Regions from separate parts of the Homo sapiens genome. Here region 2 is reported to be linked to region 1. The links are microRNA targets in miRTarBase. Many come from high-throughput screens and were not tested one by one. Region 1 holds a microRNA gene; the other region holds the end of a gene's coding sequence.
Evidence for each region. The annotated mature microRNA hsa-miR-32-5p reads UAUUGCACAUUACUAAGUUGCA and lies in region 1 at 1,491-1,512, opposite strand. An mRNA with a match to its seed (bases 2 to 7 or 8) in the 3' UTR can be bound and repressed. Matches are read on the target gene's strand: a 7mer-m8 pairs with bases 2 to 8, a 7mer-A1 pairs with bases 2 to 7 and ends in A, and an 8mer does both.

Region 1 (4,402 bases):
GATAGAGTCTCACTGTCGCCCAGGCTGCAGTACAGTGGCATGACCACAGCTCACTGCAACCTCCACCACCTGGGTTCAAGAGATTCTCCCACCTGAGCCTCCCGAGTAGCTAGGACTACAGGTGCATGCCACCAAGCCCAGCTAATTTTTGTATTTTTAGTGGAGATGGGGTTTCTCCATGTTGGCCAGGCTGGTCTTGAACTCCTGACCTCAGGTGATCTGCCCGCCTTGGCCTCCCAAAGTGCTGGGATTTGAGGCGTGAGCCACCGTACCTGGCCTCATTTCTTTTGTTGGGAGCATTCTGTATCTTCCTTCTAGCTACTTGAAATGATATAATTTATTGTTGAACTACAGTCATTCTACAGTGCTGTAGAACATTAGAACTTATGCCTTCTAAGTAATTTTTGTATCCTTTAACAAATCTCTCTCTACCCACCCCTTCCCAGCCCCAACCTCCCTTGAGAGGTCACATCTTCCCTTTCTTGATTAATCTGCCCTGGAAACCCAGCTCCACAGGGTGTCATATAGCAACCTGGCTGACATTAGATTTCCAGCATGAGGGGAACGGCCGAGCTGCTGAAGGGCACAGGGGATGAGCTGCTTACGTGGAATTCTTCCATTCTCACCCTCCAAAACAGTGGTGAAACACAGAAACATACAATGACAGCATCACAATAGATCATCTGGAGGCTATGGTAGTAGTAAATATTAATTCAATATTTTCATACAGTAATACATGGTTTTGTGTCCTTGACAATGCCTAGTGATTGTGGATGCTTACTCTAATGCTAACTAAAAAAATAACAAGGGGTTGTTTCAATTACATAGGCAAATAGTAAACGTGTATTTCAAAACTAGTTCCATTATTAGCCCACTAAAATGAATTTAGCAGTTTTCGAAGCATCACAATGAGAAAGTAAAAGACACATTTTTAAGGTAATTTACCTTGGAAACTTAAGTTTATGAGATGAATCTTTCATCAGGTAGGTTAAGCATACCTTTACTGTCTTGATTATTATTTAAGAACTCCAGTTAATTTAATTTCCCCAAATATGCATAAGAGATTTCTGCTTCTCTATTCCAGTGTTGGGAGAGATTTCTTCAAATAAATGAAAATACATTTTCTTACAGCTTTACATTCTTCCTTATACATTTAAATATTGTTTATACTCTTAAATCAATGAGAATTTGTAATAAATATTTCATTTGCTCAAAGTAAAAAATGGAAACACTGATTTACTAAATGATCATTGCTGACTTTTTTTAATCCAAATACTTTTAATTCTCCAAAATTGGAAGGTACCGATGGGAAGCATGTTCACTTTCCAAATGAGAATCGCATGGCATACACACTGTCTTATCTAATTCATCAGGACACCCACCCACTGGCACTGAAAAGCTGTAATCCCAGCAAGCAAGAGCCATACCCGTGTGCATGCACTCATGTGAAAATATCACACACACTAAATTGCATTGAGGCCGTGACAACATGCAACTTAGTAATGTGCAATATCTCCACCAGAGCAAGCAGAATGGGAGCATCAGGGAAGAAGGGTGTGATGTATACATTCAGGAGACAACATGCTGCTGAAGAGAGGAAAATGGTCTGGGGATAAAGGATGCATGCCACTGACTCAAAACTTCATGAAATGAAAACCCAATTGCAAATGTATTCAACTGAGAAGAATACTTATTCAGAATCAAAATAATGAGTAAGGTTCAAAACTTCAATGAGATAGTGATCATAAAGAAACCACATACTTCAGAAGGCAAAGCTTCACGAACAGACACTATCACTGTCTGGTCATGCAATTAACCCCCAATTTCAATTCCATTTTTGACTTATTCACAGATCATATAAATGAATGTAATGATTTCCACTTAGCTGCAACATAGATGATGATTAATGACTGATGCTTATAAAAGTTGGTATCACTGATATTTGTAGGCTAAACTGCACTTTGAGGACATTACAATATTTTCATAGTCATTCATAAATTATAAATAACCACTTATTTTTCCCTCAAAATCTTTTTCCATGAAGAAACATATTGCCTCTTCAACACAAACCTTCAGGATGAAAAATCCAACAGGAGCTCTTAGAAAGAGAACTCACTACCATCTTCTCCACAGGAGAAAGCTCTTCAGAGGAATCTCTGTAAAATCTGTACATTTTAAGTCTTGAATTTGAGCCAGTAAAGAAACAGCCCTAGGAACTTAAACTGCAAAAAAAACACCTTGAATTATAGCCTTAAAATTACATAACTTGATATAGCTTTGGTTAGAAAAATGTCTCAGGCCATAACCCATTCTTTAGTCTGTACCATATTTATCAGACTCATAAAAATCTATCAATTCTGAGAACCATTAGATTATAGTTCTGGTACCAAAGGTTGTTAAAATTTTTTCTGTATTTAAAATAAGGTGATAATAAAACAAATGGTTTTTAAATGCCAGTATACTATGGAACCAAGACATAAGCTACTGTTATAATACATAATTAGTGTATGCACTCCCAAGAAGGGAAGTCGAATCTAATTTGTAAAAGACTGATTTCCTCATATCGCTGTAGATGACAGCACTCTTTGTAATCTCAAATTCTCTCCTGAGCCAAAGACCTGAATTTCTAAATGCCACCCTCTTATGTCCACAAATATAAGTCATGATCTTCCCTAACCAGCTCCTCTTGAAAGAAGGCATCATGGTGTAACAGAGTATGTGCTTTCAATCAGCTGAACCTAGGTGTGACTAACAGCTTTACTTACCACTGACTGGCAAACACAACAGCTAGGAATTAAGTTTAAAACAAAAAAGGTGGCATATTTGGTATGAAAAAAGGTGACAGACATTTAGAGGATGGTCTGCTGTAAGAAAGCAGAACAAGAGAAAATTCAAAAGCTGTGATGTGAAAATAGAAACATTTTTCTAAGAATAAGAGTCAGTAACAATGAAGATTACTTGAGGAAAATGGAAGCATCATCTTTCTTGAAGTTCTTTATGAACAAGGTAGATATTTTTCTGCAAAGCTTGGCTTAAGCCACACTGACTGGAGAATTCCTACCAGCCTTTGATATGGCTGCTACAATAAATAGCTTTACCCCACTGGGAAGATAAAAGATTAGCCTTCCTTTTTGGTAGAGCATTTGCAAAAGCTTTTCTGAGTCAGAAAGATATCACCTAGATAAACAAAAGATTATCTATTGCTAGAATTTTCATCATTTCATTTATTCAGCAAAGATGATAGTCAATGGTCATATAGGACTTAGGAGGGAAGCTATAGCTGGTACTTCCTTCGAAACAGCTTCACCCCAATTGCTGTTACACTGGATAATATACTCCCAAATCTGGAATCTTTATAGATGGCCCCTGTGTGGATACCTGAGGACACTATACAGGTGTTAAGAGCATTTTTTTTAATCCCACTTGACAGCCAATCGCGGAAACAAGGTATTGGTGAAGATCTTACCCAGGCCTTGCTAGTAGGAAAAGGGGAGAGAACTTAGCAAAAGTTCTACAGACATTGTATTTTAGGAGCATGCATCCTGTTTGAATGTAACTGAAGGTTTTCTAACAATCAAATGGGATTCTCCCTAGCTATTACATGAACACAGTGAAAAAATATACCAAGATCAATCAGGTGCAATTATCAGAGAAAAAAAAAAAAATCAAGATTTCTGTGGAAGACTAGTTCCAGACAATATTTATTAAAAGTATGTGGAGACAGAAATGCCAGCCAAAGATTTGCTATTCAAGAGATGCTTAAGACCACCTGGTTAACAACGTATTAGAAAAAGGAGCTCTAATGGACAATAGGAGGGTTTAATTTGAGACGTATTCATAAGAAGTAAAAATGTAGTTGAGTCTTGTTAATGAGGAATGATGACAGGGATTACAGGAGGGGCTGAGACAGGCCTGCTCTGCAAAAGGGTCCTCCCTACCAGAAATGATGAAGAGGAAAAGATAAAGGAAGCCAAGAGCCAACGACCTGGAAAGAGCTTATACAGAGGAAAAGTTGAAGAAGTTCATTCAGAAACAAAGCCTGTAAATACATGGATGCCAGAAGTCATAACGAAAAAGTTTCTGGCCAGAACCTCCAGTGCATACAGAGCCTATAACTTAAGAGATAAACAACGATTCTGCATTTCCAGTATCCAACCTACTCCTTGCAGAGGGCACAGCTTGGCTGTAGGACAGAGGAGAAACAGGAAGTCCACCTACTCTCCTTCTGGAGCAAAGCTAAAACTCCTGACAGCAGAGGGTTCTGAAAGAAGTTGGAGATGGGGGTGGTGGAAGCGGGGGTTCTCTTAAGCAAGTGACATGATGCTAACAGCTAGTCTAAGATCCTGCTGATGGAAAGCTGATGGAGATAGACCATTACATCTTTGTAAATCTCAGGTTTGAG
Region 2 (4,328 bases), not on the chromosome of region 1:
TATATTTGATGCAATTATCAATGGTGTCTTTTATTTTAAAAACAATTTTCTGGCCGGGCACGGTGGCTCACGCCTGTAATCCCAGCACTTTGGGAGGCCGAGGCAGGTGGATCATGAGGTCAGGAGATTGAGACCATCCTGGGGAACACGGTGAAACCCTGTCTCTACTGAAAATACAAAAAAATTAGCCGGGTGTGGTGGCGGGCGCCTGCAGTCTCAGCTACTTGGGAGGCTGAGGCAGAAGAATGGCATGAACCTGGGAGGCAGAGCTTGCAGTGAGCCGTGATCGCGCCACTACACTCCAGCCTGGGTGACAGAGCGAGACTCTGTCTCAAAAAAAAAAAAAAAGAATGTGTTGCTTGTAGCTGGGCCACATGGTGGCACATGCCTGTAATGCCAGCACTTTGGGAGGCTGAGGTAGGGGGGTTGCTTGAGCGCAGGAGCTTGAGATCAGCCTGGAAAACACAGTGAGACTTCATTTCTACAAAACAATAAAAAAAATTAGCTGGGCATGGTGGCATGTGGCTGTACTCCTAGCTACCCAGGGAGCTAAGATGAGAGGATAACCTGAGCCTGGGAGGTTGAGACTGCAGTAAGCTATGATCACAATGTCAGTTTTGTAAAATATAAATGACCTCAAACTCTCCAGTTAAAAGTCAATCTATTGGCTGGGCGCAGTGGCTCATGCCTGTAATCCCAGCACTTTGAGAGGCTGAGGTGGGTGGATCACCTCAGGTGAGGAGTTCAAGACCAGCCTGGCCAACATGATGAACCCCATCTTTACTAAAAATACAAAAATTAGCCAGGCATGGTGGTGCGTGCCTGTAATCGCAGCTACTTGGCAGACCAAGGCAAGAGACTTGATTGAACCCAGGAGGTGGAAGTTGCAGTGAGCCAAGATTGCACCACTGCACTCCAGCCTGGGTGACAGGGTGAGACTCAGTCTCAAAACAAACAAACAAACAAACAAAAATCTATCATCACATTAAAAAATTTCAAATTTCCAGGCCAGGTGTGGCTCATACCTATAATCCCAGCACTTTAGGAGGCCAAGGCAGGTCAGTCACTAGAGCTTAGGAGTTCAAGACAAGCCTGGGAACATGGTAAAACCTCATCTCTACTAAAAAAAGAATTAGCTAGGAGTGGGGGTGCACACTTCTAGTCCCAGCTACTCAGGGGGCTGAGGTGGGATGATTGCTTGAGTCTGGGAGGCAGAGGTTGCAGTAATCCGAGATTACACCAGTGCACACCAGCCTGGGTGACACAGTGAGACCATGTCTCCAAAAAAAAAAAAAAAAAAGAAGAAGAAAAAGAGAAAGTCCAAATTTCCTGTTAGAATGTACAAAGTACTATATAAGATGACATATTGTGTGGAGAACAGTGAGAAAGTGTAGCCATAACACAGGTTTTAAAAAAAAAAAAAAAAAAAAGGAGGAGAGCTGGAATGCATAAGTAGTTGAGAAGAAAGAAAAAGAGACCACAAAAAAACAGAGATAATTTGGAAATAAAAGCAGAATTCCTCTTCAGAGAGAGTCAGTTGTGCAGCCTGGGTAGAGAAGTCCTTTCTCTGCATGCAGAATCAATGCCAGGTCTTCATCCTGGATATTTCCAATCTCTTACCTGGAGCCACAACTTCACTCCAAAAAGAATATTTATTGTTAATTATGGAACATCTACTACACATCTGGCACTGCGTTATGTTTCTTCACTTCATTTATATGCCAAATAGCCCTATGACTTATAAAGCCTCCAAAGTGTTTATCTGAACAAATTGCCCAATAGAGTCAATAAACTCAATTACTCAATTAAGTGAAAGAAACAATAACAAAAAAAGTTGGCTCGAATAGTGTTCTCTAATAATGGAAAAATGGAAATGTACTAATTAAGTACAATGAAAATTAATACACTCACTGTGGAATTATTCACATCTTCAGATTATTTTTTAAGCACCAATAAGTTTCATAAAATCATTATTATAATCCCTGAGAAGATCACATAAGAAATTCTTCATGAATTTTGGAACAAGAAAATTATACGTTAGCTCTAGCATGAGCAACATAAAAGTAAAAACAGGAATTTCATGTGGAAATTCTGCAAAATAAGATTTTAGAGAAATGCCTTCAATACAAAGCAGAGAAAACAGATTTGCCTTCGACATTTTTGAGGTTTCTAGTTTGCTAATAAATTATCCATACTTTTGAAATTATGTTTGGTTCCAACATTTTTCTCTTATTCTGAAAACAGGTATGCACTTACTTCAAACACATTACTTGCTTCATAACTGTCTTACACCTAACATTTATCCTTAGAGTAGTATATTTATGTATTTATCTCCATGTAAACCAAAACTAAAAGCATGTATATGTTTTGCAGGCCAGAAAAGCCACATGTTAAAAGGAAAATGTAAATAAAATTTTGTGAATAGTCCTTCAAGATTCAGAAATACACGGTCTTTGATTATAATCCTATATAGGCTTTATTATAGCCTTAATAATGACACTGTCATTACAAAAAGAGCAAACAGAATGAAGGTGTAACGTGTGGGAACAATATTTTTCAAATTATTTGAAGTTTAATGCCACTGGGAGAAGGGATCATTAGAGATACTATTCCACCATGTTACCCACTATTGTATTGTTACCATTTGTTACCTACAACCGTAACTAAGGTGAGATAGGTTAACGTTGGTGGTAGGATACGCATCACTTAATGTACAACGGTCCAAAGACATTAAAACAATGTCTTATTAAAACAAATTAAGTTCAAACAGTCTAAAAAGAGCATTTCAAAATCCACTGAATTTTATTACCTTAATGTGCAATAGGAAAAACAACTGACTTGTAAAACTCAAATGTTTCTTTCTTAAATATAATGCAGAATAGTACTCTGAAGACCTATCTCATGAATCACTTACAACCCTATTATAAGACAAGTACAAAGAGCCTCTCCAGTTAAATTTCTTCAGGAAGCTTACAATGCAATGTCCATAATCTTCCAAAGAAAAGGATATGAACAACACCCACCCGAATATAGAAGAAACTCTCACAGCTTTCATGTAGCAACAGTAGGCCTCATGCCTTCACATAAACACTAGAAATGAAGGCATGGTATCAAGTGATTTAAGACTTGAATTACATAAATATGTGATTTTCAAAAAAGCTAAAACTCTTTCAGTGCACCGAGTATACTTTATTATTATGTTGTTATTATTATTATTGAGAAAGGGTCTTGCTCTGTTGCCCAGGCAGGAGTGAAGTTGCCAGATAGCAGCTCACTGCATCCTCAACCTCCAGGCTCAAGCAATCCTCCCACCTGAGCCTTCCAAGTAGCTGGGACAACAGGCATGTGCCACCAAGCCTGGCTTTTATTTTACTTTTTGTAGAGATGAGGTTTTGCCATGTTGCCCAGCCTGGTCCCAAACTCCTGGGCTCAAGCAATCCCCCGACCTCGGCATCCAAAAGTGCAGCAACTATAGGAAAGAGCCACCGTGCCTGGCACCAAAAGGTATACTTGAAATGTAATTATAACTTCCCCAAAAGGTGAATCTCCTACTTACTTTAACTTAACTTTGAATTATTCTCTATAACCAACACTCAGATTTACAGTAATGTCTGAAAGTGTCAGTGACTTAGTGCTTTTTACTATGAATTCTTGGATGTGTTTTGATGTAATTTTTGATTAGACATTTTTTCACATTTACTGCATCTGTAAAACAGTTTTTAGTGTGAACACTCTGGTGTTTTCTGAGGTATATTTTTTGAACAAATGTTGTTTCTGCATTTATTACATTTGTAGGGTTTCTCTCCAATACAAAGTCTTTGAAATTGAATACAGTTTGAGCAACTGGAGGGTTTCCCTCCAGTATAAATTCTTCTGTGTACAGTAAGAGCTGTGATATAAGTGGAGGTGTTGAACCGGTCTATTTGTATTGTTCGTAGCCTAAACATTTTAGTGCACTCAAAGGCTCATAGACTGTAAATGGCCTTTTGACAGTCATTACATTTGTAACACTCTTATTCAGTAAAAATATTCTGCTGTGAAGTTGTGAATAGGTATTAAAGACTATGCCATATTGTTTAGAATTGTAGGGTTTTTCTCAGGTATGAGTTTTCTCATGTACAGCAAGTTGTGCAGAGTGGTTAAAGGCTTTGCCACATTCCTCACACTTGTATGGTTTCTCTCTGGTATGAATTGTCTTATGTTTAGAAAGGTGTGAGCTCTGGCCAAAGGCTTTGCCACATTCTTCACATTTGTAGGGTTTCTCTCCAGTATGAATTCTCTTATGATTAGTAAGATATGAAAACCAGTTAAAAGCTTTGCCACATTCA

Region 2: the mRNA of ZNF695 is a reported target of hsa-miR-32-5p. The part of its 3' UTR that is shown has no 7-base or 8-base seed match.

What each region holds. Positions count from the first base shown.
Region 1 is chr9:109,044,782-109,049,183 of GRCh38, forward strand. MIR32 (microRNA 32) reads right to left here and starts at 1,517; the gene lies at 1,448-1,517. The region is part of intron 14 of TMEM245 (transmembrane protein 245); the gene reads right to left.
Region 2 is chr1:246,982,871-246,987,198 of GRCh38, forward strand. ZNF695 (zinc finger protein 695) reads right to left here. Exons shown (of 4, transcript NM_020394.5): 4 at 2,453-4,328. The coding sequence ends at 4,097. All of the region lies in intron 4 of ZNF670-ZNF695 (ZNF670-ZNF695 readthrough (NMD candidate)), which reads right to left. Among named protein-coding and RNA genes, the nearest start is that of ZNF695, 23 kb to the right of the region's middle.